Linked DNA regions of Homo sapiens. The protein of the gene in region 4 interacts with the protein of the main gene of each other region in a pairwise test. Each region holds a gene or a part of one and is shown on either strand. Other genes may lie near its edges. The genes, in order: HNRNPF, PLEKHN1, IRX6, NFKBID, SH2D1B, ZBTB16 and IKZF3.

Region 1 (4,049 bases), on a different chromosome or scaffold from region 4:
ACCCTATCAACACCCTCATCTTAAGACTTCTAGCCTCCATAACCGTGAGAAAATTTGTTACTAGTCTGTATTACTTTGCATGGCAGCCCTAGCATACTAATACAACGTGTTACCAAACCAGACAAAAACATCACAAGAAAACTAACTTCTGAATTCTATGTACTTTAAGAGGATCGTATATGGTATCTAACACCAACTTAAATTAGAAAAGATATGTATTTGTCATAAACATCATAATTCTATTAGATGGCACTATTCTAATCAAATAACTTATGATGGATTTATCGGGATATAACAGTAAGTAAGAGTATCTGTATTTGTATTAGGTGAAGCATTTTGTCTAACAGGAGGCATACCGTTAGGATAAATCTAATAGGAGTCTTAATCTGTCATGCCTTTTCTTAATTATGATGGCTTTTTTTTTTTAAACGGGGTCTTGCTTTCTTGCTCAGGGTGGTATGCAGTACTGCAATCACAACTCACTGCATCCTCTATGTCTTTACAAGTGTTCGCTATCATACCTGGCTAATTAAAAATTCTGTTTTTGAAAAGATAGGGTCTTGCCATCTTGCCCAGGCTTATCTTGAACTCCTGAGCTCAAACCATCATTCCACTCTCGGTTCACTGCAACCTCCACCTCCTGAGTTCAAGCAATTCTCCTGCCTCAGCCTGGGATTACAGATGCACACCACCACACCTGGCAAATTTTTGTATTTTTAGTAGAGATGGGGTTTCGCCACATTGGCCAGGCTGGTCTTGGACTCCTGGCCTCAAGCAATCCGCCTGCCTTGGCCCTGCTGGGATTAAAGGTGTGAACCACCCCGCCCAGCCTGTGTCATTTTCAAGAGATCTTTTTCCTAGCCCCAGCCCATATAGTTATCTGAACTTACAAAGCGTTGATGTTCTTCTCTAAATTTTTACACTTACATCTACAATGAACTTGGAATTGATTTTTTCATTTCCAAAAGAGTTTTACAATTAATCAAGTATCACAGGCTAATTTCACTCAAGAACTCAGATGCAAAAGTCCAAACCAAGTATCAGTCAACCTAATCCAGCAATATATAAAGCGATATTATGACCAAGTTGGATTTCAGGAATGCAAGTGTAGTTGATCATTTCAAACTCAATCACTGCAATTTCTCATACTGATGTATCAATGGAGACAAAGTATAGAGGTACTTTTTTAATGTTTTATGAGAAATGCTAAGCTGAATTTATGTCAAGGAAGAACTGAGGCCATATATAGTGGCTCACACCTGTAATCCCAGCACTTTGGGAGGCCGAGGTGGGCAGATCACTTGAGCTCAGGAGACCACCCTGGGCGACATGGCAAAACCCCTTCTCTACAAAAAATACAAAAAAAAATAGCTGGGCATGTGGCACACACCTGTAATCCCAGCTACTTGGGGGGATGAGGCAGGATTGCCTGAGCCCAGGAGGTTGAGGCTGCAGTGAGCTCTGTCCACACCAGGGCACTCCAGTGTGGGCATCAAAGTGAAACCCTTTCTCGAAAAAAAAAAATGTGGAGGGCTGGGCGTGGTGGGTGACTCACGCCTGTAATCCCAGCACTTTGGGAGGCCAAGGCAGGTGGATCACTTGAGGTCAGGAGTTTGAGACCAGCCTGGCCAACATGGTGAAACCCCCCACCCCCTGCCACTCCACCATCTCTACTATTAGATGGGCGTGGTGGTGCTGCACACCTGTAATCCCAGCTGCTCACGAGCCTGAGAATCGCCTGAACCCAGGAGGCGGAGGCTGCAGTGAGCCTGGATCCTGCCACTGCACTCCAGCCTGGGTGACAGAGTGAGAATCCGTCTATAAAAAAAAAAAAAAAGGAAAACAAAAACAAAAGTACATCTTAGAGCGATCACATGAAAAAGTATTCCTGCTAATAAATGAAAAGGAATCGATTATTAAAATATCACTAATTTGAAAACCATTTAAGAAAATAATGGATCTACATAATGATCATTAATAGCTGCTGTAACATGACAAAAGAGAAGATACCAACCAATATGTGCCTCCGGTTGGAGCACAGCACCTCAAGTAAGTTTTCTTTCCAAAAACTCTCATCTGAATCAAAACTACCTCCAGACTGGGTGCGGTGGCTCACACCAGTAATCCCAGCACTTTGGGAGGCTGAGGCGGGTGGATCACCTGAGGTCAGGAGGTTGAGACCAGCCTGACCAACAAGTTGATACTCCGTCTCTACTAAAAATACCCCTGTAATCCCAGTTACTCAGGAGGCTGAGGCAAGAGAATTGCTTGAACCCAGGAGGCAGTGAGACAAGATCACACCATTGCACTCCAGCCTGGGCAACAAAACCAAAACTCCGTCTCAAAAACAAAAATAAAACCAAAACCAAAAACTACCTCTAGAGGTAACTATCACTTTACAGGAAATATAAAGAACAGACACTCAAAGACCACCACGGAAAAACAATCAGAAAAATGCGAAGTGTGGGGAAGGAATGCTGCAAGACAGCCCGACAAATATAACGGGGGATGGAGCCTTTTAAGAAAGGGGAACCTCTAGATGATCACTTACACAGCATCCATTCACCACGCTTGAAATGTGTAAGTGTAAAACTCACACTGGATTTTGACAAGTTCACAGGATTTTGTTTTTAATTATTTTAGTCAAGATCATGGAGAAATGAAAAAGTGTTTTAAAATTACATGCAAAATAGTAGTGGATATATATTAGGTTAAATTATTAATACAATGAATCATGTTTCCTTTTACCACTAAAGAATATAAGATTACATTTATAGCATACATTATATTTCTATTGGACAGTGCTGCTCTGAATTTAAAAAGTTATCTACAAAATATAAGGTGTGACTTTGGATCCTGACTCAAACCAACCAGCTGTTTAAAATATTTAATACATGCCGGGCGCGGTGGCTCACGCCTGTAATCCCAGCACTTTGGGAGGCCGAGGCCGGCGGATCACGAGGTCAGGAGATCGAGACCATCCCTGCTAACATGATGAAACCCCGCCTCTACTAAAAATACAAAAAATTAGCCGGGCATGGTGGCGGCCGCCTGTAGTCCCAGCAACTCGGGAGGCTGAGGCAGGAGAATGGCATTAACCCGGGAGATGGAGTTTGCAGTGAGCTGAGATTGTGCCACTGCACTCCAGCCTGGGTGACAAGAGCAAGATTCCGTCTCGGAAAAAAAAAAAAATTTAATACAGAAACACTTAAACCCTGGATACTTGATATTTTGGAATGTATTTTTAGGCATGACAGCAGTATCATGGTTAGGTTTTAAAAGTTCTTAGAAATACTGCGGATTTATTTATTAATAAAGACCTTATTGGTCTGGGATTTGCTGTAAAATAAGCCAGGGCGGTCTTGGCTGAGCTCAGTTCTCCCTCTGCCCACCCTGTTGCCCTCCACAAGAACCGTAGCTCAGGGCAACTAAGACAGGGCAAGGGCCCTGGCAGGGGAGGGGTGTCCCGGTCCAACTTGGGACCCAGTTGGGACTGGGTCCCAAGTCCCAATTGTGTCCCTGGACACATGACTTCTCCCAACCTCCATTTTCTCATCTGAAACATGGGGCTAATAGCAAGCCCTTCTGGAGTAGTCCTGAGCATGTAATTAGAAAATGGAGTAAAACTTCTAGGACCTAGTAAGAGTCAACTAATGTGGTTCTCCCGAAGAGCAGAGAACCAGAGCTCAGTGGGGGAGAGGGAATTAGAGAAGTCACCTCCAAGGAAAGGGCCTGTCACATTTCTGCAGCCCCTGCAGGCATCTACCCCCACCGGGCTCTCATTTGCCTCCAGGCTTTCCAAGGTTCTGGCCACGTGGGAGAAGTAACTTTCTATTTACTCAGTCTTTTCCCTTAAATAAATTCCATTTTTTACCTGAATAAAGCTTTATAACGCTACCCTTAACAGAAAACTTGGCAGTTTACAAAAAAGTGGCCGGGCACGATGGCTCACGCCTGTAATCCCAGCACTTTGGGAGGCAGAGGCGTGAGAATCGCTTGAGCACAAAAGTTTGAAAATCAATCTGGGCAACATAAGGAGACCCCATCTC
Region 2 (3,991 bases), on a different chromosome or scaffold from region 4:
TCGGCCAATGCTGGCACGGTCAGAGTTGGCCTGGTCCTGTGGGGACCACAAACCTTCCAGGAAGAGCCCTTTGGCCCCTCTCCCGTGCAACTCTCTGAGGCTGCAAGGGGCTCCCTCCAGTCTGAGTTCCCCTGAGGAACCAGGGTCCCCAACACACACCTACCCGACAGCCTTCTGCCCCACTTTCGTCTGCCACCCCGTAAGCGCTCACCGGTGTGTGCTGGGAGGAGCAGCCCACGGTGGATGGCACTGAGGACTCAGGCAGGGAGTGGCTGGTGCGGGTGGAGGGGGGCGCCAAGCACCCCGAGTCCCAGCTGGTCTGTCCGCCTGAGGAGAGTGAGCCTCGGCCACTGCCCATAACCTGGATGGGCAGTGAGTGGGGGTGAGTGAGGGCTGGACCCCCTCCCCACCCGCCCCTGCCTGGACCCACCGTGCTGTCCCCCCTTTTATCTTTTTGGGACGAAGTCTTATTCTGTCGCCCAGGCTGCAGTACAGTGGCACGATCTCGGCTCACTGCAACCTCCGCCTCCTGGTCAAGCGATTCTCCTGCCTCAGCCTCCTGAGTAGCTGGGGTTACAGGGATGTACCGCCATGCCCGGCTAATTTTTTTGTATTTTTAATAGAGACAGGGTTTCTCCACGTCGGTCAGGCTGATCTCGAACCCCTGACCTCAAATGATCCGCCCGCCTCAGCCTCCTAAAATGCTGGGATTACAGGCGTGCGCCACCACGCCCGGTCTGCTGCCCCCTTTTTACCACTGCCCAGGACCTGGGCTGTGGGGCCTATTGACCCCTCACCTGCGACCCTGGGAAGCTCTCGGCACCAGGCAGCGGCGGGGCCCCCTCCCTGTGGGTGACAGCGCGAAGGCACAGCAGCCAGTGACCGTAGTCCTCGTAGCTGGCGCACACCACGCGGATGGTGTTGATGAGGGGGCCTGGCATACAGATGCTGTGAGGGGCTGGCGGGGGGGTGCACCCCTCAGCGCCCCCACTAAAGAGTCGGGCGTCCCCCAGGCTCCCGCCCCACCATGGCCTGGCCAGGCGGGAGGCAGAACCAGGGTCAGGGCCCTACCTTCAATCAGGAAGGAGCGGATCTGCTTCTCCTTCTCCTCCAGGTTGATGTGGACGGCACGGAGTGGGAGCTCCCCCTGCGGAGCAGAGATTGAGGGCCAGGCCTTTGTAGGGGCAGCCCCGGGGCCCCGCCTGGCCTCATCCCACCCTCTTGCCCTCCAGAGCTTGGCTGGGTACTTGGAGAGCTGGGCACCGAGGCCACCACCCTGAGGGAGGCCAGTGGGTCCCATGTCTCCTGGGGCTACCACCAACCCTGGCGCGGGGGCCTTCGCCGGCTAGGGGCAGACACACAAAGCCACAGGACTGGCCTCTTGGGGTCCCCAGAGAAGAAGTTGGGCCGGGTGAACCATGGGGAGGGCCCTGTGTTTGTTCCTCAGTGACTGAAGGTTACCGTGAGTGCACACCCCCTTCCCGGAGCCCGCCCTGGAGGACACACGCACACGCACGTGTGCACACACACGCCTCACGGGCAGGCACACACAAGGGAGTCCCCGGGAGGGGCTCTCAGCCCCATGCTGCCCGCCCCAGGGTGACGGTCAAGAACCTCAGGGTGAGAACCTCAGGGCGGGCAGGGGCTCCTCCATGTCACAGCGGAGACCAGACTGACCAGGACCGCGGGCTGGGTGGGCAGGGCCCTGCGCTCTGTCTCAACAAGCCCCGAAATACAGGTTCCTCCTGCATGGCTGCCCCCTCCCACCCCCACACAGCTGCCTCCCTGGGGCGGGCCCACAGTGGGGAGGGGCCCACCTTGAAGCAAAGCCCGTCCAGCTCCTCGGAGAAAATGGCCAAGGACGTTGGGTACAGGACCAAGAGCCGGTCCCACTGCTCCTGGGTGGGTGGGGGTGGGGTCAGGCGATGAGGGAACTGAGCTGCTGTTGCACCGCCCTGCCCACCACCATGCACCCCTCCCATCCCCCTACAGCCCCACGCACCTCCCACCCACCTGTGCGGGCAGGTGCTGCAGCTTGACCCTCGAGGCACAGACAGCACTGCCGCCGGGTTCGTGCCCTGACGCCGTCCGCAGCCGGGTTAGACGGCGCTGCAAAGTCCAGGGGAGTTCGTCTCCGCAGGACCCCTGTGAGGAGGAGGTCAGAGCCGGCTGCGAGGATCAGGGTGGGGAGGGGGGTGGGGTCCCCGGCACTGACCTGTGGGGGTGCCGAGTGGCAGCGCCGCGGCCCCCCGAGGAGGGCCGTCTGCTTCTCCAGGTGGTAAAGCCAGCGGTCCAGCTCGGCCCGGCTGGGGCAGAGCACCAGGAGGGGTGCGGGCAGTGGGCCTGCGGGCAGGGCAGAGAGGGCACACACATACACACACGTGCTCCGCAGCCACAGGGCAGGCCCCTCTCCAAGTCCTGGGTCAGGAGTGCCTCTGGGGGCCCGGGAAGCATCCCAAACACCTGTGATCTGGAAGGCGTGCTCTCGGGACCCCTCGAGCGGGCAGACACTCAGCTCCGTCAGCGGTAACAGCCCCTGCCAGGCACAGGGTAGGAGGAGCTTCAGGGATCCATGGAGGGAAGGGCGGCCATGGCCCCACCCCATTGCCCACCGCCTCACCTGAAATGTGAGTCCTTCCGAGCCGTGGGCCTGGAAGTACAGGTGGGCGGGGAATAGCTCCAGGTAGCAGTCGCTGACATCCTGCGCGGGGAGCAGGGTCGTCAGTGCGGAGTCTGGGGAGCCCCAGGCTGATGGGGATGCTGCACCCTTAGCGTGCTCCACCCAGCCCGGCCCCCACCTGGCTGTGCTGGAACCGCAGCTGGACCTTGGCGTAATGCACAACTTTTCCCAGGTTCCTCACAGGCACCCTCCGCCGCCCCTTCTTGAACACACTCAGGAATGGCTGCTCCAGGTTTTCTCGCTGGTTCTCCAGGTCCAGGATGTCCTAGGAGGAGTAGAGCTCAGGGGAGGGGGCCTCCCCTGGGCCCCCCACCCCCTCCGCTCGCATCCACACAGCTACAGGACTATAGCATGGTCTGCCTGTGCATAGCCACACAACACATATGTGAAGAACAGCCCCCCACAGGCACAGAACCTGTGCACAGCCACACAACACATACGTGAAGAACAGCCCCCCACAGGCACAGAACCTGTGCACAGCCACACAACACATACGTGAAGAACAGCCCCCCACAGGCACAGAACCTGTGCACAGCCACACAACACATACGTGAAGAACAGCCCCCCACAGGCACAGAACCTGCACACTCAGCCTTTCCACAGGAAAACAGTCACGGCAGAATTTACACACACGTGCATACATATATGCATACATGCATATTCGTGTACACGTACACGCACACACACCCGATACGTGCACATGCAGGCAACATGCATGCATCCATATATGCGCACACATACACATGTATAAATGCATACACGCACACATGCATACACACACAATAGACACATACATGCCACACAATACAGACACAGATGCATACACACGGGAACACACATACGCACTTATACACACATGTACACACACGCACACATATGCATGGATACACACGTGCACACATACACAGTTGCACATACACAGATATGCACACACGTGCATACATGCATACATATCCACACGCAAATACACCCATACACATGTATACACATACACACGTGCACATACACACGTGCACACATACACATGCACACCTATACACACATGCACACACATGCATGCACACATGCACACTGCATACATGCATACATTTCCACACACACACAAATACACCAACACACACGTATACATACACCTGTGCATATACACACAGATGTGTGCACACATATACACGTGCAAACACATGCACACATACACACTTGTGCACACACACGCACACACAGACACACTTCCCCACACAGAGCTGCCTGGTCTAGTGGTAGAGATGGTGAGATCTGGACTCAGTGGATTAAACCCATCTTCATTCTTTCCTA
Region 3 (4,054 bases), on a different chromosome or scaffold from region 4:
GACAAAGACCCCTTCCCTGCCCGTCAGTTCCCATTGGTTGGCCTGTACCGGAAGTGTTTGCTGACACTTTTGATAAAACGGGAAGAATGCCCCCTCTCGCCTCACACCGACCCTGAAAGCTGCCTGACCTCCCCATTAGGTTCAGTTCGATCGGAGGAGCGCGGTCCTCGTCACCCCTCCCCCAGTAAACTTACAACCCAAATACGAACCCGGAAACAGATGCAGTTTCCAGATAAACATCCTGACAAGTCCCACCACTTCCCATGCGCAGGACCCGCGAGGTGGTCAGCTTGGCTCCACGGATTGGTTACGCAGCGGTTAGTCCGCTGAGCTGCAGGCGCCACGGCCTTGTCTGTTACCTTGTCAGTTTCTTTCCCAGCTACTAAAGGAACTGAGGTATGCAGCCCACGCCGCGCTGTCGCAAGAATCCCTGGCCGCAATGCATCTTTGCCTGCACACCGACCTCTCAAGCACCTCTGGCAAAGATAGGCCACACTACATGGGTTCGGACTGATTATTTTTAAGGACACAAGGGCTTAGGAGGGGGAGAAGACGCACAGGGTCCTTATTGGCCGGGTCAGTGATGAAGTTACAAAGTGAGTGGGGTTGGTGGAGGTGAGAGACAGGGGTGAGCAGGAGAGGAAGCCTTGCTGAATCCACAGGAGGAAGAGAGACTTGGTAGAGTCGGTGGGTGGGGCAGCCTCCCAGCCTCCCACTTGGCCTTCCCCAAGGTGCCCTGCCATCTCCCGTGGGGACTGCTAAGGTTCAAGTCGGCCCACCACCCCAGCTCTGCGTGCAAGGACAGCTGCTAGGAGGGTTTCTGTGTGTCTGTCTCTTAGGCAAAGTGAGAGCTCCTGGTCCCTGGCAAGGTCTGGCAGCTTCTTAACCTGGAGATGAATTCGAAACGTGGGGCCCATTTCCAAGATTCTTTCGCAAATCGCAGCCATTGCGCTAACCTGCTGAGAGAGGAAAGGTTGATTAAAACCCAAAGGCTGTTTAGTGGCAATTCTTAGGAAACCTCTGGGTCAGCCATGTCTCTTCTGAAGGCAAGCAAATGGTCTAGAGGCAATTAGCTTGCCAGAGGTAATGTTTGGATCCGTTGCGTAAATTCAAATAACAGTGTAACCCACTTTTCTAAGCCAGCAGCTAATCCTGAGAGAAATTACTACAAAGAGCAGAATCTGACAGTAATTGCTGGAGGCTGCCTCATGCTTGGGGAATGTCCCTTTGTGGGATGAAATTCCCTTCCACCAGGTCCTTAACACAGTGAAAGAACCAGCCAGCATCAGGGGACACTGATTGGCAGTCACTGGCCTGCCTGGGGATGAGCCCTGGGTAGAGTGCTCTCTAAGGACAGTACCAATCTGGGGCCTGAAGCTGCTGACCGCAGGGGCATGTCTACAACTTTCCAGGGGTTTTGGTGGGACACAGACAGGGCTGCAAGCTGGACTTAAGCACTGACCTTAAATCTGTGGTGTGCGTCTGGCCCACAGTCTTAGACTTCTCTAAAAGCCCTGGTGCCTGCCCAACCCTAGTAAACTCTCTGAGCAGCACAGCAGGGACCAGCGAGTCTCCTCTGAAAGGCAGGCAGGGGACAAGGGCGTTTGTGCTAGAGGAGCATGGTGATGCACACCTGGTGGATTTGGCAGTACACTGGACCACACGAATGCAGAGATCCTGGTTGTCCATCTCTCGAACGGCTTTCTAAGTGATTCTAGGTAAATTACAGTCTGCCTGTGAGTTTATTATTATTTGACTTTTAAATAAGGGAGTACTAGAACCTATCTCTACGCTTCCGTCTGAAAGAGCGCTGTAAAGCAATCTCCCGTCAGTTCTGTGGGAGACCTGGGCAGACTGGAATGGCAGAGGGTGTGCAATTGCCGGGCGGGGCGGTAGGTGGGTGTCTTTTGCATAGATACTCCCAGCGCCGCTGGGGGCCCACTACCTTCTGCTCCAGACGGGTACTGGCACTGCACTACAGGCTCGCTCCTCCGCGGGCACGGCGCACAGTTCAGCGGTAGTCCCTGCAGGGCAAACTTGGGGTTTCCAAAGGCTTTGGGTATGCAGGAAGACTCGTCGCACGCGGAGTCTCTGGGGACTGAGAGTCGCCGGGCAGAGGCAGGAGGCTGTCCAGGAATCATACGGCACTCAGGACTTCGTGGCCTAGGCCGGGCTGGGGGTGCACCTTCAACAGCGCTGGCTGTCGCGGTGTGCGCCAGAGACCAGATGCGCGGTTTCTCCAAGCATGGGTAGTGCATGGTCAACCTAGGGCTGCCTGTCTCCGCCGAGAGGAAGTCAGCTTCTTCCGATCCGGAAGGGTCATTGAAGGAGAAGCGGGGCGCAGCCAGGCCGCACTCCCTGCGCTCCAATCGGCCCTCTCGAGCTGCAGCGCACGGCCCAGGCAGTGACTGCGCGCCCTTTCGGAACTCCGTCAGCCTGTCCCCAGCTGTGGCCACTACCTCCTCGTCTTCAGCTTCCTCCTCCTCCTCCTCCTCTTCCTCCAGGTCTTCCAGGTCACTCAGCCGGAGCCCCCGGGCCTCCTGGCTAGCAGTAACTTCTGCAGGAAATCAAGAGCGAGTGAGAAAAGCCCCAGGGCCCAAGGGAAATCCGAGGAATGTCCATCCCCGAGAAGCTTTTAGCAAGAAGCGCCCTGCACTCAGGGCATCCTCAGTGTAATTCACCAGACCTGCCGTACCACCCCTTGCATTTGCCCAGGGTTGTTGGCCACCTGTCCTTGGGAAAGAATTTCTGCCCCAGCCCTGCAACCACCCTTTAGCGGACTCCTCCTCTAGCGAGCAGTGCCAAGCCAAGGAAATGCCACTTGGCGCTGCCTGAGTTCTGGATCTCAGTTTCTCAATTGTGAAAAACCAGGGGGCAGTTTTTACTCGATTTCAACATCTACAAGTGGCTGCTGTTATATCATTTAATTCAGCAAATATTTACTGAGCACCAGCCATCATTTAGGTATTAGGTGTGTAGGGCATATGGCAGCAAGTAAGGCTTCTGGTGGAGCTGCCATTCTAGAGAGGGAAGTTGGGTATGTAAACTTTCTCACAGTGACAAGTATGGCAAAGGAAATCCAAACAGGCTGGCAGAACAGAAAATAACTGGGAGGCTATTTTGGCTTGGGTGAGGCAGGAAGAACTTTAGGAGGTAACACTTTGATGTCAAGAAGAAGCCGGTTGTGTAGAGAATTACAGGTAGAAGGCAGTGCACAGGCTAATGCTCTGAGACAGGCAGGGAAGTGCAAGGGTAAGTCTGAGGACCTTCCAGAAAATCTACCCTACAGGGCAGCTTTTGAAAGACCAAACTGCTTGATGACTTGTAAAACCCTTAAGGTGGGGTGGTGAACGTTTTCAGTACCTTTGGTGTCAGCAGTTAGGCAGCCTAGTGAGTCCTCCTCTCCTCCCTCTGCCTTCCTCTCCTCCCCACCTTTGTTCTTGGGCGCCCATGTCATTTTGTTCTCTTTCTTGAGGCGCCGGCGTGCGTTGGCGAACCAGGTGGACACCTGGGTGAGGGTCATCTTGGTGATGATGGCCAGCATGATCTTCTCACCCTTAGTGGGGTAGGGGTTTTTGCGGTGCTCGTTGAGCCAGGCCTTGAGTGTACTGGTGGTCTCCCGGGTCGCGTTCTTTCGGCGACCGGCGCCACTCAATTCCACTGCGCCATACCTGTGGGGGAGAACCTGGCTCACATTATAGAAGAGGAACAAGGAACTGCAGGCAGAGGACAGTCTGTGGCGTGGAAGTGTGGTTCAGCTCCCTCCCTCTCCCCTGCCGCCATCCACCCTACCTTGGCAGTGGGGGAGGAAAGACTCACAGTGCCAGTCACCAAGGCCCTTCACTCCTTACCGTTCATATTGGTACTGCCCCAGAGTCCGCTCATAGGGATAATAGGCTCCTGGTTGTGCCAGGCTGGATGTAAAACTCCCTGCAGCCTCCTTAAATTCATACTGTGGATTCTAGAGGGAGAGGAAAAGAGAATTCAGGAGTACAGTTGGGGAGGGGGCACATGGGGTGGTAGCTAAGGGTCTGGTTCAAATCCCAGTATGGCC
Region 4 (4,049 bases):
AAAGGTCCGCAGGTCTCCCCGGGGCAGCTCCAGCAGCAGCTGAACCAGAGTGGGGTTGGCAGCCTGCACGGCCAAGTGCAGAACTGTCTTGTTGCTCTTGATCTCCTGAGGGGAAGGGAATGGCAGAGGTCAGGGCCAGCCTCACACCTAGGTGCCCTCCCACAGAATCCAGGAGTCTTTAAAGACCCTGACCCTTGGCGGAGTGCGGTGGTTCACGCCTGTAATCCTAGCACTTTGGGAAGCTGAAGAAGGAGGATCACTTGAGGCCAGGAGCTGCAGACCAGCCTGGACAACACAGCAAGACCTCATCTCTACAAAAAATAGAAAAATTAGCCAGGCGTGGTGGTGCGCACCTGTAGTCCCAGCTGCTTGGGAGGCTGAGGCAGGAGGTTCATTTGAGCCTAGGAGTTCACGGCTGCAGTGGGCCATGACCACACCACTGCACTCCAGCATGGGTGACAGAGTGACACTCTATCTCAAAATTAATAAATAAATAAATAAGATGCTGGCCCTCTTCTGCGAGCCCCACCAAGAGTGCCTTATTCAGTTGTATGTCTTGTGCACCGCACAACACCACGTCTCAGGGTGTACCATTCACACCATACACCTTCCAGAACTGTACATTTCTCATGACAATTTTCCCACCAGTGTCTGAGAAAGAGACTCCTTTTCCAGTTCTTCAAAGCAACTGCCTTGGCTACCTGCCCTCCATTCAACACATTAAATTGCATCCCGACCCACACAGACTGTACTTTATCTACAAGCACAGGAGTTGGCAGCATTAATCAGTGGACTAGCTAATATTGCAATACTGCACCACAATATTGAGCTGTTCCCATCATATTTGGGGGAAAATAAAAGACATTTTCTAAAATGAAACCTTTTTATGTGTCTTTAAGGAGTTTGTAACGATAATGAATGTTAAACATTTTATGTGCTGATAACAGGGCAAAACCACCTAGTTTGCTCGTCCAAAAAATGATGAAGACAAAACCAAAGCTCTAGATTAAGAGTGATTTGAAAAGACGTAACATCATAATATGTGTGCTTATTTGGATCTTGATTTTTTTTAATGAAAAAAATTATCATTTTACAGCCAAAAGGAAATTTGAATACAGCCAGGATATTTGGTATTACAAGAAAATCTTTAATTTTTTAAAGACAGAGCAATGATACTGAGGTTTAAAAAGTTCTTTTTTTTCGAAGGGCACAGGGGCTCATGCCTGTAATCCCAGCACTTTGGGAGGCCAAGGAGGGCGGATCACTTGAGGTCAAGAGTTCGAGACCAGCCTGGCCAACATGGTGAAACCGTCTCTACTAAAAATACAAAAATTAGCCAGGCGTGGTGGCACATGCCTATAATCCCAGCTACTTGGGAGGCTGAGACACAGGAATAGCTTGAACCCGGGAGGCAGAGGTTGCAGTGAGCCAAAATCACACCATTGCAATCCAGCCTGGGCAACAGAGTGAGACTCCGTCTCAAAAAAAAAAAGCTATGTTTTTTGTTTGTTTTTTGAGACAGGGTCTCGCTCTGTTGCCCAGGCTGGAGTGCAGTGGTGTGACCAAGGCTCACTGTAGCCTCAACCTACTGGGCTCGAGTGATCCTCCCACCTTAGCCTCCCCAAGCACTGGGATTACAGGGAAAGAGTTCTTATCTTTTATTATTGTTGTTGTTGTTGTTGAGAGACAGGGTCTTGCTCTGTCACCCAGGCTGGAGTGTGGTGGCAAAATCATGGCTCACTGCAGCCTTGACCTCCCCAGGTTCAGGTGATCCTCCCACCTCAGCCTCCTGAGTACCTGGGACCACAGGCATGTGCCATCAAGCCCAGCTAATTTTTGTATTTTTTTTAGAGATGGGGTCTCCCTATGTTGCCCAGGTTGGTCTCGAATTCCTGAGCTCGAGCAGTCCGCCCACCTGAGCCTCCCAAAGTGCTTGGATTACAGGCATGAGCCACCGCACCCAGCCATCTTTCTTATTTTTAAAAAACTTATTATTATTACTAAAAATACAAAAATTAGTGGGGTGTGATAGCACATGCCTATAGTCCCAGCTACTCGGGAGGCTGAGGCAGGAGAATCACTTGAACCTGGGAGGTTGCAGTGAACCAAGACTGTGCCACTGCACTCCAACCTGGGCGACAGAGCGAGACTCCATCTCAAAAAAAAAAAAAAAATTATTTGTCCTTTTTTCAGAGAAATACTCCCTGATTTCTGAGTTCTCCCAGAACCCTACCACACAGTTAATTCTTCCTCTTCATCATTTCTTGCTCAACTTAAATGTAATTTCCTCAGAATGACCTTCATTGTGAGCCCCGCATCCAATATAAAGCCAATCTTTTTATTGTCTAAGAGCTCCTTCTACATTCCCAAGGCAGCTCTCATCCCAATTTGTAATTATGTTCAGTTCTTTGTTTACTTATCATCTCCTCTCTTTTCCATTAAATTTTAATGTCTAAAAGTACAAGAAAGTGGTCTTTTCTTATTAAAACATTATAGGTAGCTGGGCACAGCAGCTCACGCCTGTAATCCCAGCACTTGGGAGGCCAAGGCTGGGGGATCACTTGGGCCCAGGAGTTCGAGACCAGCCTGGGCAACATAGTGAGACCCCCCCTCTCTACAAAAAATATAAAACAATTAGCCGGGTGAGGTGGCTCATGCCTGTAGTCCCAGCTACTTAGGAGGCTGAGGTGGAAGGAATGTTTGAGGTCAGGAAGTCGAGGCTGCAGTGATTCGTGATCGCACCACAGCACTCCAGCCTGGGTGACAAAGCCAGACTCTGTCTCTAAAAAACAAACAAACAAAAAGCAACTTTATGCCCCATCACTAGCACACTGGTAGCTACATCATATGTGTCCAAAATTCTGAGTGAAGAAACGAATGAATTACCAAAGTATCAATTTCACCTTCTCTGTATTGCCCAAATGATCACTTAGCTCTACTTTGCAACCATTAAGAGCCTAGATTACCATCATTCATTTCCTAACCCCGCTAATAATGCCTTATCTTGTCTCTACTCAGTCATGCCCGTCCTTCTTACAGTCCATCCCCACCATCTAGCTAATTCTGCTAAACACCATTATTCTTTAAAGATACACAAATATTTTTGAAAAAAATACATGTTGGAATTTGCTTAAAAATCACATGAAAGTGAGAGGCCACGCACAGTGGCTCACGCCTGTAATCCCAGCACTTTGGGAGGCCGAGGCGGGTGGATCACGAGGTCAGGAGATCGAGACCATCCTGGCTAACACGGTGAAACTGCGTCTCTACTAAAAATGCAAAAATTTAGCCGGGCGTGGTGGCGGGTGCCTATAGTCCCAGCTACTCAGGAGGCTGAGGCAGGAGAATGGTGTGAACCCGGGAGGCGGAGCTTACAGTGAGCCGAGATCGCACCACTGCACTCCAGCCTGGGTGACAGAGCGAGAGCCATCTCAAAAAAAAAAAAAAAATCACTTGAAAGTGAGAGAGTGGATGGGGCAGGACTGGCCATGAGTGGCTGGTTATTGATGTTGGACATATGGAGTTCATTCCACTATTTTCTATATTTTATTGGTGTTCAACATTCTTTAACTAAAAAAACATTTTTCGGCTGGGCGCAGTGGCTTATGCCTGTAATCCCAGCACTTTGGGAGGCCAAGGCGGGCGGCTCACCTGAGGTCAGGAGTTTGAGAGAACAGCCTGGCCAACATAGGGAAACCCCGTCTCCATTAAAAATACAAAAAAATTAGCCAAGCGTGGTGGTGCATGCCTGTAGTCCCAGTTACTCAGGAGGCTGAGGCAGGAGCATGGCTTGAACCCGGGAGGCAGAGGTTGCAGTAAGCCGAGATCATGCCACTGCACTCCAGCCTGGGTGACAGAGTGAGATTCCATCTCAATAAATAAATAAACATTTTTTGTGGATGTTTAATTCTCTCAGCCAGCCTATGAAGGAGCTACTGTCACAGGAAAGGAACAGAACATAATTAAAAGCTAGGTTCTAAAGTCAGACTACCTGGGTTCTAATTCTCTCTCTGACAGTCACAAGCTATAAGATTTTTCAGGCTGGGTGC
Region 5 (4,049 bases), on a different chromosome or scaffold from region 4:
TTGGAGGTGATAAATATGTTCATTATCTTGGCTGTGTTCGTTTCATAAGTGTACATACATATGTCAAAATCCATCAAATTGTACACTTTTTATTTTATGTCAGTGATACCTCAATAAAGCAGTAAGACATATTCATGGCATAAAAAGGTAGATGAATATAATTTATCTTTCTAATATATAAACTAAATTTTAATTCCTTATACATATGTGCTTTTGCTGTTTTCATGATTGGTTTTTGGCCTCAGATAGAAAAAGTGTTTCCTATTTTTGCAGTTATGTTCTCAATAAATATGTGGTGTCTTGACTCTCTGTGTGAGACTGATACCCAGTGGAGCCTACCTTTTTGTTTATTCTATGGAAATCGTTGTCGTCATTTATGAGAAATACACTGGACTTATAAAAAACATTTAAAAATCTTAGGCATTAATTTCTCAGTTGAGGTTCAAAAAGGCTGGAATACAGGACCTCTAAGTTTTCCCATATCTTTGAATTGTTTTACTCTATCTATTTAGCTTTCAAAGTGATCGTTCCATGAGGTGCTGTGCACGGATCTCTGAGTCCTTGCTCAACGCATGAACAGCCCACAGATTAGCACGGTCTCATGTTGTGGCCATTGTTGTGGGGAAACTTGTTTGTGTTCAAGTTTTTATTTTAACTAACCTTCAAAAGGTCAGCTGAAGGAAATGGAATCGACTGCACCCTATAATATCAACAATGTGTTCTGCATTTTTCCATGCCATGATGCAAGTGGGAAATCCAAGTCAACAAAGAAATATTTTAAGACTTTTGACCTCTGGCCTTATCACTGTTCCTGATCTCAGTGTATCTTGGTGCAACCTTTTGTGGTACTAATTTTTCAGTGTGCATGAAGATTTTTTTAAACATCTAGGATTTTATCCTAACTAGGGAGTAAGGCAAACTTTCACAGATGTAAGTACAAAAATGTTAATCATTCCAAATTACACTGAGTCCACTGGACTAAATTGCAAATGAAAATTGAAAATAACCTAATGTATGATATGTATACATTATGATATATCAAATCAATAAAATACTAAGCAGTCATAAGGGGATGACCTGCTTTCTTTGATGGGGAAAGAGACCTACAATTATGGAGAAAACAGGTTGCAAGCCATCATGTATAATGAACCATTTATGTACATATATTGGTTTATAGATGCGCAGAGAAGTCTGGAGAGATGTATGCCAAAATATTAAAAATGGTGATTTCAGAGTGGTGAGACTGATATAGTTTGTTTTGTTTTTTATACCTTTCTCTATATTTGATTTTCTAAAATGAATTTTCATTAGCTTGATAAACCACCACAACAAAATGGATCATTTCTTTTCTTTCTGTACTCTACAATCCTTGCAAAAGTCTCAGAATCTGAGACTCATAAATGACTCTCAAGGCAATAGATAGACATTGCCATTATTATTCTTAATGAGAGCATGCAGTAGGTTAGGGCTCAGGTCTTCCTCACCTGCAGCCTTCCTATGGCTTTGCAAAGTCCTCCTTTTCTTCACACTTGCAGATGAATCCTTTGCACCTCCTAATATCTACTCCATTTAATTTTACTGATGATAAAGGCAGACAGTTTAGACACTCACAAAGTCACACTACACAGACAACCTTTTACACACTGGAGTTTTCTAGACACTCTATTACATTGTAAGATCAGAAAACATTTCCTGTCCACAGTTACCACATAGCTTTCTGGTTAGTGCCATATGCTGCTAGGTCAGCTCTCTCTGTGACCTCCTTCTTTTATTTCTAACCTTCCTCACAGTATTTTCATCACTAAATATTTAGCTCTGTGAAAGTCCTGAAGTATCGGGGGAACCAGCCCCCAATATTTCAACGTAGGTTCTTTTCTATTCTCCCTAAGTGTCGGCCAGTCTAAGAAATAAAGGGAAAGAGTACAAAACAGAGAAATTTTAAAGCTGGGTGTCCAGGGGAGACCCATTTTAATGCAGCAGAGAAGAAGGGGACACTGCATATCAGAGTCCACTCCCAAGCCCTCAGGTCCCCTGCTTGGGCATTTTATAACACAGATCCAAGGTGATTACCTGAAACATATTTCAGTGAAGCTGGGGACATTGGTAAGAGAGGGAATGTAATAACATATTAGCAATTTGGCCCTAGGCAAGCTATTAAATAAGAAGCTACAGTTTATTTTCTCACAAAATAGTGATCATGTCGCCTACCGCAAAGGGATTGCAAATGACAAATAAGATAATGCATGTACCATGCTTAGCAAAATGTTTGGCTCATAGATAATACCTACATGGTAACTTTTTCTGTGTCAGTGAAGACAAGCAGGCTAACACTTGTATCATAATAGTAATTCTTGCTTTGCTTGCAAAGGGTTGTATCTTGAAGCATGAATTGGTTGATGTGACCTCTTCAGAGAAACCTTTCCTGTACCCAATGGAAAGCAGCAGCTGTGTCTCTCCCTGTCATATGACTCTGTTTCATTTTCATCATATTTTCTCCTCTTACTGAAATTAACTTCATGAGGGCAGAAACATTGCCAGTAGTATTTATCACTGTATTACCAATGCTTAGGACCACGCATGGAACATAATAAGTGCTCAGTATATGCTTGTTGAATGAATGAAGGTTCCACTTATTCTCCTAAAGTCTCAGCTCCAATATCTGGTTCTCCCCTTTTTGCTGTCAGCTCTACAGTGCCCTAATGATAGTCCAATCATCATAATTATCACATGCATCACTGTGTCTGTTTACTTCTTTATTTTCCCCACTAGGCTCTGAGTTGTGTTGAAGGCATCAACCGAGTGTCTAGCACACTGTCTGACATATGAGAGAATTCAAATATTTGTTGAACAACTAGAATTTAATAGTCCATACTTATCTGTATGATAATACATTTTTACAAGGCCCTATGAGGAGATAGCTTCAGGGGTCACTTGACCTAAGCCTTAAGCCTGAGGGTGAATGAAATGTTGTTTGCCTTTCAGTGACATGTGTAGGGAGGTGGGTGAGACCTGATCATGTGCAGGGGCTTAACAAATATTTATTTTTGCCTCTCCACTTGGTTTATTTTCATTTTTTAGCTTCTCTTTTTTTCTCTTCTTTTTTTTTTTTTTTTTGAGATCAAGTCTCGCTCTGTAACCCGGCTGGAGTGCAGTGGTGCGATCTTGGCTCACTGCAACCTCCGCCTCCTGGGTTCAAGCAATTCTCCTGCCTCAGCCTCCTGAGTAGCTGGGACTACAGGCGCATGCCACCACACCCAGCTAATTAGTTTTGTATTTTTAGTAGAGACAGAGTTTCACCATGTTGGCCAGGATGGTCTCAATCTCTTGACCTAGTGATCTGCCCGCCTCGGCCTCCCAGAGTGCTGGGAATACAGGTGTGAGCCACCACGCCTGGCCCATTTTTTAGCATCTCTTAGTGACCTTTGCTTTAGATGAATATGCAAGATGGGCTGATGCACCACAGAACAGTTGAGAATAAATATCAATTTTCAAAGAGAATCCCAATATAGGCTGGGTGCAGTGGCTCATGCCTGTAATCCCAGCACTTTGGGAGGCTGAGGTGGGTGGATCACTGGAGCCCAGGAGCTCGAAATCAGCCTGGGCAACATAGCGAGACCCCATGTCTACAAAAAATTTAAACATTAACCAGGCATGGTAGTGCGCACCTGTAGTCCCAGATACTCAGGGGGCCTGAGACAGGAGAATCTCTTGAACCCAGAAGGTTGAGGTTGCAGTGAGCCATGATCGCACCACTGCACTCCAGCCTAGGAGCTGGAGTGAGACCCTGTCTAAAAAAAAAAAAAAGAAAGAAAGGAAGGAAGAGAATCCCATATTGACCATATACCCTGAGATCCTGGCCAAGGTCTGTCCTTGCACCTTCTTGTTTTTTCCCTTCCCACTGCTTGCCCCAGCACAACTAGCTCTTCACCGTCTCCCGTCCAGAGACACAACAGTTTCTGTTGCCATCATTTCCCAGCTTCATTGTGTTCTCCACGTCAAATTGAAGTTCCTAAATTCACCAGTCTTTTCACTTCCCTGCTCAGAAACCA
Region 6 (3,326 bases), on a different chromosome or scaffold from region 4:
GCCCTCTTCCATCCACAGCAATTGTACCAATAGCATCCAGAAAGGTACCATACACTTGTGAAAAATTGCAGCAGTTTTTTTTTCTTTTTTTTCTCAACATGGAAAAACTGTTCAGGCACAAAGATTAAACAAGCCCGCGTTGCATCCCTTGGATTGTACTGAATCACTGGGTCCCCCAGCCTCCCTACCTACCCCTGCACCCCAGATCTGCCTTCCCCATATTCATGGCCTCCTCCTCCAAAGCAGCCCAAAGCAGCAATGATATTTACTATTTTATATCAATCTCTTGCTATATATATATATATCTATATATCTATATATTTGTCTATCCTATATATACATAGGATTTTAATGCTTTGAATGAGTGAAGGAGTGAATAGGGAAAGAGCACATGAGGTGTAAATGTCACCAAATGCATTAAGGGACATATTTGTAGGAGCTGGACATGGGAAAGGGACTATTAACCAACGTGGCCTTGCCAGGCTGGAGAAGTTTTTCACTGTGCTGGATAAGGCAGTAGCAAGCAGGGTTGTCAGCAGTACCACAGCTAAAGGCAGCCAGGGGGCCGAAGGAGTCAGGTGGCATGAAGAAGAGGGGAGGACAGATATTCAGATCCCACCTGGGGAGAGACCCCTGTCTACCCTCCTCCTCTCCCCTTAACTCCAGACACATATAAAGCCTCCAGACAGCCTCTTAGCTTGCCCCCTGGCCACTAGGCCGTGCAACATTAGAACTGTTCTGTTGTTGTAGGTAGGAAGTTGGAGAAGAGGCATGTTAGACTCTATTCAGGTGTCTTCATGGGGAGAGGAAGGTACAGTAAGTTCAGAGGTGTCCCCAGACAGTAGCCCTCAGAAACCACACTCCCCTGAGCTCTCCCCATACCTCCCTACTGGGGTCTGCAGGGCCCACGGGGTTGGGTGGGGCATCCAGGTGCTGATTTAGTACCATCCATTGCTGCAACACCAGATTACGACAATACTGCATGATTTAACACACAACCACACACACAAAGCACACGCGCACACGCACATACATGTACAAAGGGATATTTTGGTGGTGGTGGATTTTTTTTTGTCTTTTGTCTTCCTATTCACATTACAAAAGGAAAGGGCAAGGTTCTGCAGAACTGACGAAGGAACTAACAGATACTACAAAAATATTACAATTTGTGAAGATTAGCTCAACCCTCTCAGCTTTTATGAATGGAGCGGGGAGGGGCCCAGGCTGAGTGGGAAGGGCATGGGAGTGAGGGGGCCAGCTAGTTCTATGGAATAGTTTGATTTTTTTCTCTTCCTTCCCCACCAATGTTGAATGACATCTTGCTGTTAAAAATACTGTTTTCTGGGATTTACAGATCCCCTGAGGGCCAGCCAGTCCCCGCTTCTTCCCAGACCAGAGGAGGAAGCCATAGTGCATAATGATTTCTTACAGACGGCCCCTCCCCCAAATGATTTCACCCTTTTCACATTATAAACATGACAACTGTTCTAGTCACGTATTTCAAGTTTAACTTCTTTTCCTTTCCAAAACACTAAGTCGTTACTATAGTTGCAAAATAGCATCCTCCCTACTTTACCATCCCTAATCCACAGTCTAGTGACACCGTCCTCCCAATTCACATCCTCCCAACACACAATTTTAAGGCCTTCAGATTTGGTGGATGAGATTGAAGGGGAGGGCAGGAGGGCTGGGGCCGAGGGACGGGGGGGTCGTCGCAGCAGCACCCATCCCTCCGGCTTCCCTACATTCCTCGTGATCCTTCTCCCCAAAACCGCTTCCCTAAACCACTTTGTAAAACCTAAGATCAAAACGCAGCCACAACTTTCTCAGAGAGAGAAAGGAAAGAAAAAATAATAATAAAAAACTCTTACACATAAAGCATGAGATGAAACGGAGGGTCCGTCCCAAAGCAAACACGAATATTGCAAATGTGCTTTCCAAAATTCAGGAGGGTCGGGGGAGGTTGGGGAAAAGAGGGAGGAAGAGCAGCAGAATGGGAGGCGGGAAAGGAACAAAAGAACAACTGGACAAACATAAGAGGTAGCTTTTAGAAAAACAACACCCCCACCCCAACACAACAAAACAAAGGCTGGATCCCGCCCCCCTCCCCAAAGACCAGCCGTGAAAATAGACCAATTCTGGCAATGAGAATGCACGCACAGAGGTGAGACCACACAGTTGCAAGGATCCAAACACAGGCCCTCAAACCTCAATGGCCCAGCAAATTGTAAGAAAGGTGGGATTCTCTCCAGAGTGTTTTAGGCGGAACGGATGGTGGCCACAGGTGACTTCATGCACCAGCGGAGCCAAAAGTGACTCCCTAGTGCCCTCTGGGGACCATGAGACCCCAAAGCAACATCCCCTCCCCACCCACGCTCTTCGCCCTCCTCGGCCCTCACATTCAGATCCTGAGTATCAACTCCTCCTGCACAGTTCCTGCCAGCTGGGAGGCTGGTCTCCAGGGGCACGGGGAGGGTCTTGACCAGCTGAAGTCTATAAAAACAACTATTAATTTACACAAGAAACAGAAAAGAACACCCTCCCCATTCCTCCAAGCCCCAACCGAAAAAGAGATACAGAGGTTAAGAAAGCTCATGAGGTCACAAAAAACTGAGGTAATTCAAGTACAATGTGCTAACAGGGGACACAGAAAAGAAGCAAAACATAACACAAGGCCAAAGCGCTTTCAAATCCTCCTCCTCCTGCAGCTCCTCCCCCTCCTTCTGCTCCTCCTCCTCCTCCTCTCCACTGTGGACCGAGGGGCGCTGTGAGTCAGGAATTCTGTGCGACTCTCTCTGGACCTGGCTTTTCTTGCTGAGCTCACTACATCTGGGGTCCCCAGTGTGACTCAACAACTTTCTCCCTTGCCCAGCTTCCCTCATCCCACGGGCTGGGTGTCCTCTTTTCCAGGTGTGGGACCCCTCTAGAGAAAGACATCCACAACCTACCCTCGGAACCTCAGCCCATTCATGGATTCCTTCTCCTGGGACTGAAGTAGGGCTACGTAGGGACTGTGGTTTGTTTGGTAGGATATTAGGTATTTAGTTGTGATGCTTTTCCATTTTGGAAGCAGCGCAGCAGGAATCTTGCTCACGATGGTGCTGGACTAGGGTGGGGTATTGGATTTGTTTTGTGTTCTCAGAAGGCTGAGGGTAGGAGGGACCCTGAAGTCAGAGGCAGCTATCCCACTAGGGAACCGGAGAAGGATGGAGACACCGCCAGGTCCCTGAGGGGCTGGGACTCCCCTGGGACTTGGAGGACAGGAGTCAAGGGGAGGCTGGGAACAAAGAGCTGGAGGAGGGGCAGGGGTCCTGAGGCTCTCAGAG
Region 7 (4,049 bases), on a different chromosome or scaffold from region 4:
TCTTATGTCCTCTGTTTTCAGAAAGACTCAACACATTGATCTTACTACATTTTAAAGTTCAGTGACCATGGAGTGGCCTGAGTCTGGTCATGTTCACATTTTCTAACCAAAATGGAAAGGATCCTTTTCTGCTGGCCTTTTCTATCTGCTGTTTTTGGTTTTAAGTAGCTGAAATTTTCCGTTGAGGTTCTTTTAAACGCCTACATGCAAACTGAAGAGCACTCAAGCTTTGGTGGGATATTACCCACAGCTGGAGTGATGGAGGAAGGGAGGCAAGTACAAGCCTCAGGTGCATCCTTCTCTTAAAAAAATAAAAAATAAACACTTAAGCAAACAAATTCCACTTGAAAGCAGGGAAGACCTATCCAGAGAAAGAAGTAAACCTCTTTCCAAGTAGGAAACAGATATCATTTCTTATATAATCCAGATCCATAGGGTGGGCAAATTTGAAACATGTTGGACTTATCCTACAGCCCTACATCTTTGCTAGTCAAAGAGTGAAAAGTTGTGAACCATGAACTGTGGTAGGAAGCAGTGGAACTGTGTGGCAGCCCTGGCTCCTCTGATGGTGGTTAGGCCCTGTCTTGCTCTATTAAGCAAACACAGTTAATATAGATGAAAGGTAACCTTGATAGAAGTGAAAATTGAAACTTGGGTTGAAGGTAGCAAGCCAGGCACAGCTGCAGTTGTACTTCCTCCTATGCAGCAAGAGGAGCAACACTTACTGATGTTTTTTGGAAGGGATGTAGTTTTTTAAAATATCTTTTTTCAGACTGTTTTGGGTTTTAACATTTACACCATTGATGGGAGGGTGTGTAATACAGTTGGTAAGAACCCACTTAGGCCTTATATGTCTAGTGCATGAGGTCAAATCCAAGTAATTGATAGTTCAAGCTTAAGTTTTGCATTCTAATCACACCTCTGCCAGTAACTGGATGTGTAACCTTCGACAAATGACCAAAAACATCTCTGCTCCCAGATTTCCTCATCTGAGAAACAAGAGGGTTGGATTAGATGACCTTTAAATTCCCTTCCAGCCCTACACTCCATTGATTTGTGATTCCTCATGGGGAGGTACAACTTTTGATTTCTAAGGACCAATGGTTGAAAAAGTAAGCATTTATATAGCATATTTTATATATGCAAAATCCCTTACAAATGTTTATTATTCTTACATCAGGCAAATTTTTAGGTTTTACTAGTGTCAGTGCAAGTACATAAATTTGCCTTCTTTGTTTCTTATGTTCTTCATATTTTTCCCACGTTCTTCATATGTTCTTATGCTCTTCATGAAGAGTATTACAGCTCTTCTTTTAAATTTCATTCATTTACATTGCAGTTCTTAAGATAGTACTTGGTCAGCCAACTCACTTGAGCCAGTCCCTCCTCTCCTATCCAGTCCTATTACACAATCCTTGAGTCCTTGAGTTTAGTTCTCCCTAACTTGGGACCTAATGGTCCTTCCCCTTATTTAGATTGAGCCCCACTTACCTGTGTCGATGAAAGTGACTCCTTAGGTTATATGAAAGAATTACTTTTCCTTTTGTCTTTCTCAACACTTTTTCATTAGTACTGACAACTTCCTCTACAGTCAATGTTGTGCCTTTATCAGCTCCAAGAGAGACAGAGATAAGATGTGTTTTAGCAATTCATATACGTGGAAGGGGAAGAGGCAATGCATGGCTTAAAATTAGAAAAACTATGTTAACTAGTCAACTCTTAATCTTAATGGCTTACACTGGATGCATCTGAAGGATTCAAACAATATTTTCTCCTTGAAACCTAAGAGTACATCACCTTGCCTTTTTAACTGCAGCCACCAAAAACAGTACTAGATCTGAGAACCCTTCCTCTCCCCTAGTACTGGAGAAGAGTTGCTCAATGTTTGTTTCATGGCCACTTTGAGCAAACTTAGCTAAAATCTATTATCTGTAATTTTCTGGATAGCCTAAAACACTATCGTCTATTTTTATGTGTGTAAGTATGTGTGTTTTCCTCTGACTGTGGTTCTGAATTTAAATAACGTGCGGTCACGCTAATGGTGCTTTCTTGTTTTGTAGATGTACAGTGTTTTGTTAGCTTCGATTGGTATTTAATTGTCAGTTGTGGGTCTCTGCTGTTTGAGCTGCTTTGATAGCTTCAAGTATAGTCGTTGTTCATTTCTTGCATTTTCTTCCCTGCAGATGATTCAATGAAAGTGAAAGATGAATACAGTGAAAGAGATGAGAATGTTTTAAAGTCAGAACCCATGGGAAATGCAGAAGAGCCTGAAATCCCTTACAGCTATTCAAGAGAATATAATGAATATGAAAACATTAAGTTGGAGAGACATGTTGTCTCATTCGATAGTAGCAGGCCAACCAGTGGAAAGATGAACTGCGATGTGTGTGGATTATCCTGCATCAGCTTCAATGTCTTAATGGTTCATAAGCGAAGCCATACTGGTAAATAGTCTGCTTTTTTCATTCTTCTGAAAACTCTCCTAATGCAGCCACGTGAGAAATGAAGTGGTGGAATTTGGAACTTTTGGTTACTTTCATTGATTTTTGCTATAATGCTGATGTATCTCTCTCTCTGCATTGCTGTTCACTCAGTGCTTTTTATTCCTGCCTCACCATGCATTTGGCAAACATATTGCAAATGCTATGAATAAAAAAAGACTGTAGAGAGCACAGTGTTCTAGGTCAGCCAAATACTTTTTCTTCAGTTTCTAAGTAGGAGTTGAATTGTGTGATTTGCTTCTTAGCCATCTTTTGTATATTTTTGCATAACATTTTTAATAAGAGCAGATCTTCTTATTGTATTGGGTTCAAATTTGGTAAATGAAAGGACATAGTTTTTATTTCCAGCTTAAAATAATGTATCTTCAGACAATAAACAGGTAGTCTATAGAAATGCATACAAACACAACCATCGCACTTGAGCCAGTCGATTCCATCCCATATCTCATATGAAGACTTTAAAAAGGAGAATTTCTAGCCCTCAACACCTTGTAAGGACTTTAGTTTCTGGCTCTTTTTTCAAAGGAGATTATATTCAAAAGGAATACTAAAAAATTAGCCAGGCATAATGGCAAACACTGGTAGTCCCAGCTATTCTGAAGGCTGAGGTGACAGGCTCACTTGAACCCAGGAGGTCAAGGTTTCAGTGAGCCATGATGGGACCATTGCACTCCAGCCTGAGCAACAGAGCAAGAAGACCCTGTCTAAAAAAAAAAAAAAAAAAAAAAGGGAGTACCAAGTAATATAGTAATATAAAAACTTAGATCTAGAAAGCACTTCTAGAGCTGCTCTTGTTTCTTTGCTCTGATTCAATATGATACCTAAAATAGCCTTGCTAGTGGGTGCTTTTTCTCTTCTACAGAGGAGATTTCATAAGTAAGTCTTAGGCTTGCCTTGAAATGCAGCTCCCAACTGATCCCAATGTGAACAGTAATTGTCTAAAAGATGAGCTTTTCCCCTAGGCATCTAATCTGTGCATATGTTTCTCCACTTGCCTGTGACCAGAAATCTCCTTTTTTGTCCTTTTTAAAGGTGAACGCCCATTCCAGTGTAATCAGTGTGGGGCATCTTTTACTCAGAAAGGTAACCTCCTCCGCCACATTAAACTGCACACAGGGGAAAAACCTTTTAAGTGTCACCTCTGCAACTATGCATGCCAAAGAAGAGATGCGCTCACGGGGCATCTTAGGACACATTCTGGTAAGTGAGAGAAATGAGCATTCCTTGTCTAGGAAGTGCATTCCTCAGAGCCCAGTGTGGAAACTAGAAAGAGTTAAGTAGGAAGGTTTCAATCTGTCATTCTTGTTCTGAAGGGTTACAACAGCAGAGACCTCTAGGGCTAATTACACGACCATTAAGGCACTAATTGCTCTCCGTCTGCCTCAGTGGAGATGATCATCTCCTCACCATCCTTGCACCCATGGAGAACAACACAGTCAGATAGGAAGAGCCCACCCTATAAAAAATGTCCTTTTAATTTTTGTGAGAAAATTATAGCCATCAGTATTTTCTTCTGGTAAACTTTATTAGAAGATTATTTTCCCAACA

The links.
Region 1: the proteins of NFKBID (region 4) and HNRNPF interact in binary tests that used the Homo sapiens proteins (3 or more experiments, as listed by UniProt).
Region 2: the proteins of NFKBID (region 4) and PLEKHN1 interact in binary tests that used the Homo sapiens proteins (3 or more experiments, as listed by UniProt).
Region 3: the proteins of NFKBID (region 4) and IRX6 interact in binary tests that used the Homo sapiens proteins (3 or more experiments, as listed by UniProt).
Region 5: the proteins of NFKBID (region 4) and SH2D1B interact in binary tests that used the Homo sapiens proteins (3 or more experiments, as listed by UniProt).
Region 6: the proteins of NFKBID (region 4) and ZBTB16 interact in binary tests that used the Homo sapiens proteins (3 or more experiments, as listed by UniProt).
Region 7: the proteins of NFKBID (region 4) and IKZF3 interact in binary tests that used the Homo sapiens proteins (3 or more experiments, as listed by UniProt).

What each region holds. Positions count from the first base shown.
Region 1 is NC_000010.11:43,402,480-43,406,528, forward strand, and holds part of HNRNPF (heterogeneous nuclear ribonucleoprotein F), read right to left. Parts: intron 1-4,049.
Region 2 is NC_000001.11:969,231-973,221, reverse strand, and holds part of PLEKHN1 (pleckstrin homology domain-containing family N member 1), read right to left. Parts: intron 2,946-3,991; coding exon 2,799-2,945; intron 2,702-2,798; coding exon 2,621-2,701; intron 2,537-2,620; coding exon 2,464-2,536; coding exon of another isoform or gene 2,344-2,463; coding exon 2,216-2,343; intron 2,146-2,215; coding exon of another isoform or gene 2,110-2,145; coding exon 2,014-2,109; coding exon of another isoform or gene 2,003-2,013; intron 1,899-2,002; coding exon 1,818-1,898; intron 1,148-1,817; coding exon 1,072-1,147; intron 935-1,071; coding exon 798-934; intron 362-797; coding exon 212-361; intron 37-211; coding exon 1-36. UniProt on the Homo sapiens protein: Controls the stability of the leptin mRNA harboring an AU-rich element (ARE) in its 3' UTR, in cooperation with the RNA stabilizer ELAVL1.
Region 3 is NC_000016.10:55,327,203-55,331,256, reverse strand, and holds the end of IRX6 (iroquois-class homeodomain protein IRX-6), read right to left. Parts: intron 3,962-4,054; coding exon 3,852-3,961; intron 3,672-3,851; coding exon 3,364-3,671; intron 2,558-3,363; coding exon 1,946-2,557; intron 960-1,945; coding exon 952-959; 3' UTR 501-951; downstream 1-500. UniProt on the Homo sapiens protein: Transcription factor. Binds to the iroquois binding site (IBS) motif of target genes to regulate gene expression; functions as a transcriptional activator or repressor. Modulates expression of RCVRN, VSX1, BHLHE22/BHLHB5 and TACR3/Nk3r.
Region 4 is NC_000019.10:35,890,386-35,894,434, forward strand, and holds part of NFKBID (NF-kappa-B inhibitor delta), read right to left. Parts: intron 2,783-4,049; coding exon of another isoform or gene 2,675-2,782; exon of another isoform or gene 2,318-2,674; intron 106-2,317; coding exon 1-105. UniProt on the Homo sapiens protein: Regulates the expression of IL-2, IL-6, and other cytokines through regulation on NF-kappa-B activity. Functions in the regulation of inflammatory responses.
Region 5 is NC_000001.11:162,405,318-162,409,366, forward strand, and holds part of SH2D1B (SH2 domain-containing protein 1B), read right to left. Parts: intron 1-4,049. UniProt on the Homo sapiens protein: Cytoplasmic adapter regulating receptors of the signaling lymphocytic activation molecule (SLAM) family such as CD84, SLAMF1, LY9 and CD244. In SLAM signaling seems to cooperate with SH2D1A/SAP.
Region 6 is NC_000011.10:114,251,162-114,254,487, reverse strand, and holds part of ZBTB16 (zinc finger and BTB domain-containing protein 16), read right to left. Parts: 3' UTR 1-3,326. UniProt on the Homo sapiens protein: Acts as a transcriptional repressor. Transcriptional repression may be mediated through recruitment of histone deacetylases to target promoters. May play a role in myeloid maturation and in the development and/or maintenance of other differentiated tissues.
Region 7 is NC_000017.11:39,791,068-39,795,116, reverse strand, and holds part of IKZF3 (zinc finger protein Aiolos), read left to right. Parts: intron 1-2,183; coding exon 2,184-2,444; intron 2,445-3,533; coding exon 3,534-3,701; intron 3,702-4,049. UniProt on the Homo sapiens protein: Transcription factor that plays an important role in the regulation of lymphocyte differentiation. Plays an essential role in regulation of B-cell differentiation, proliferation and maturation to an effector state.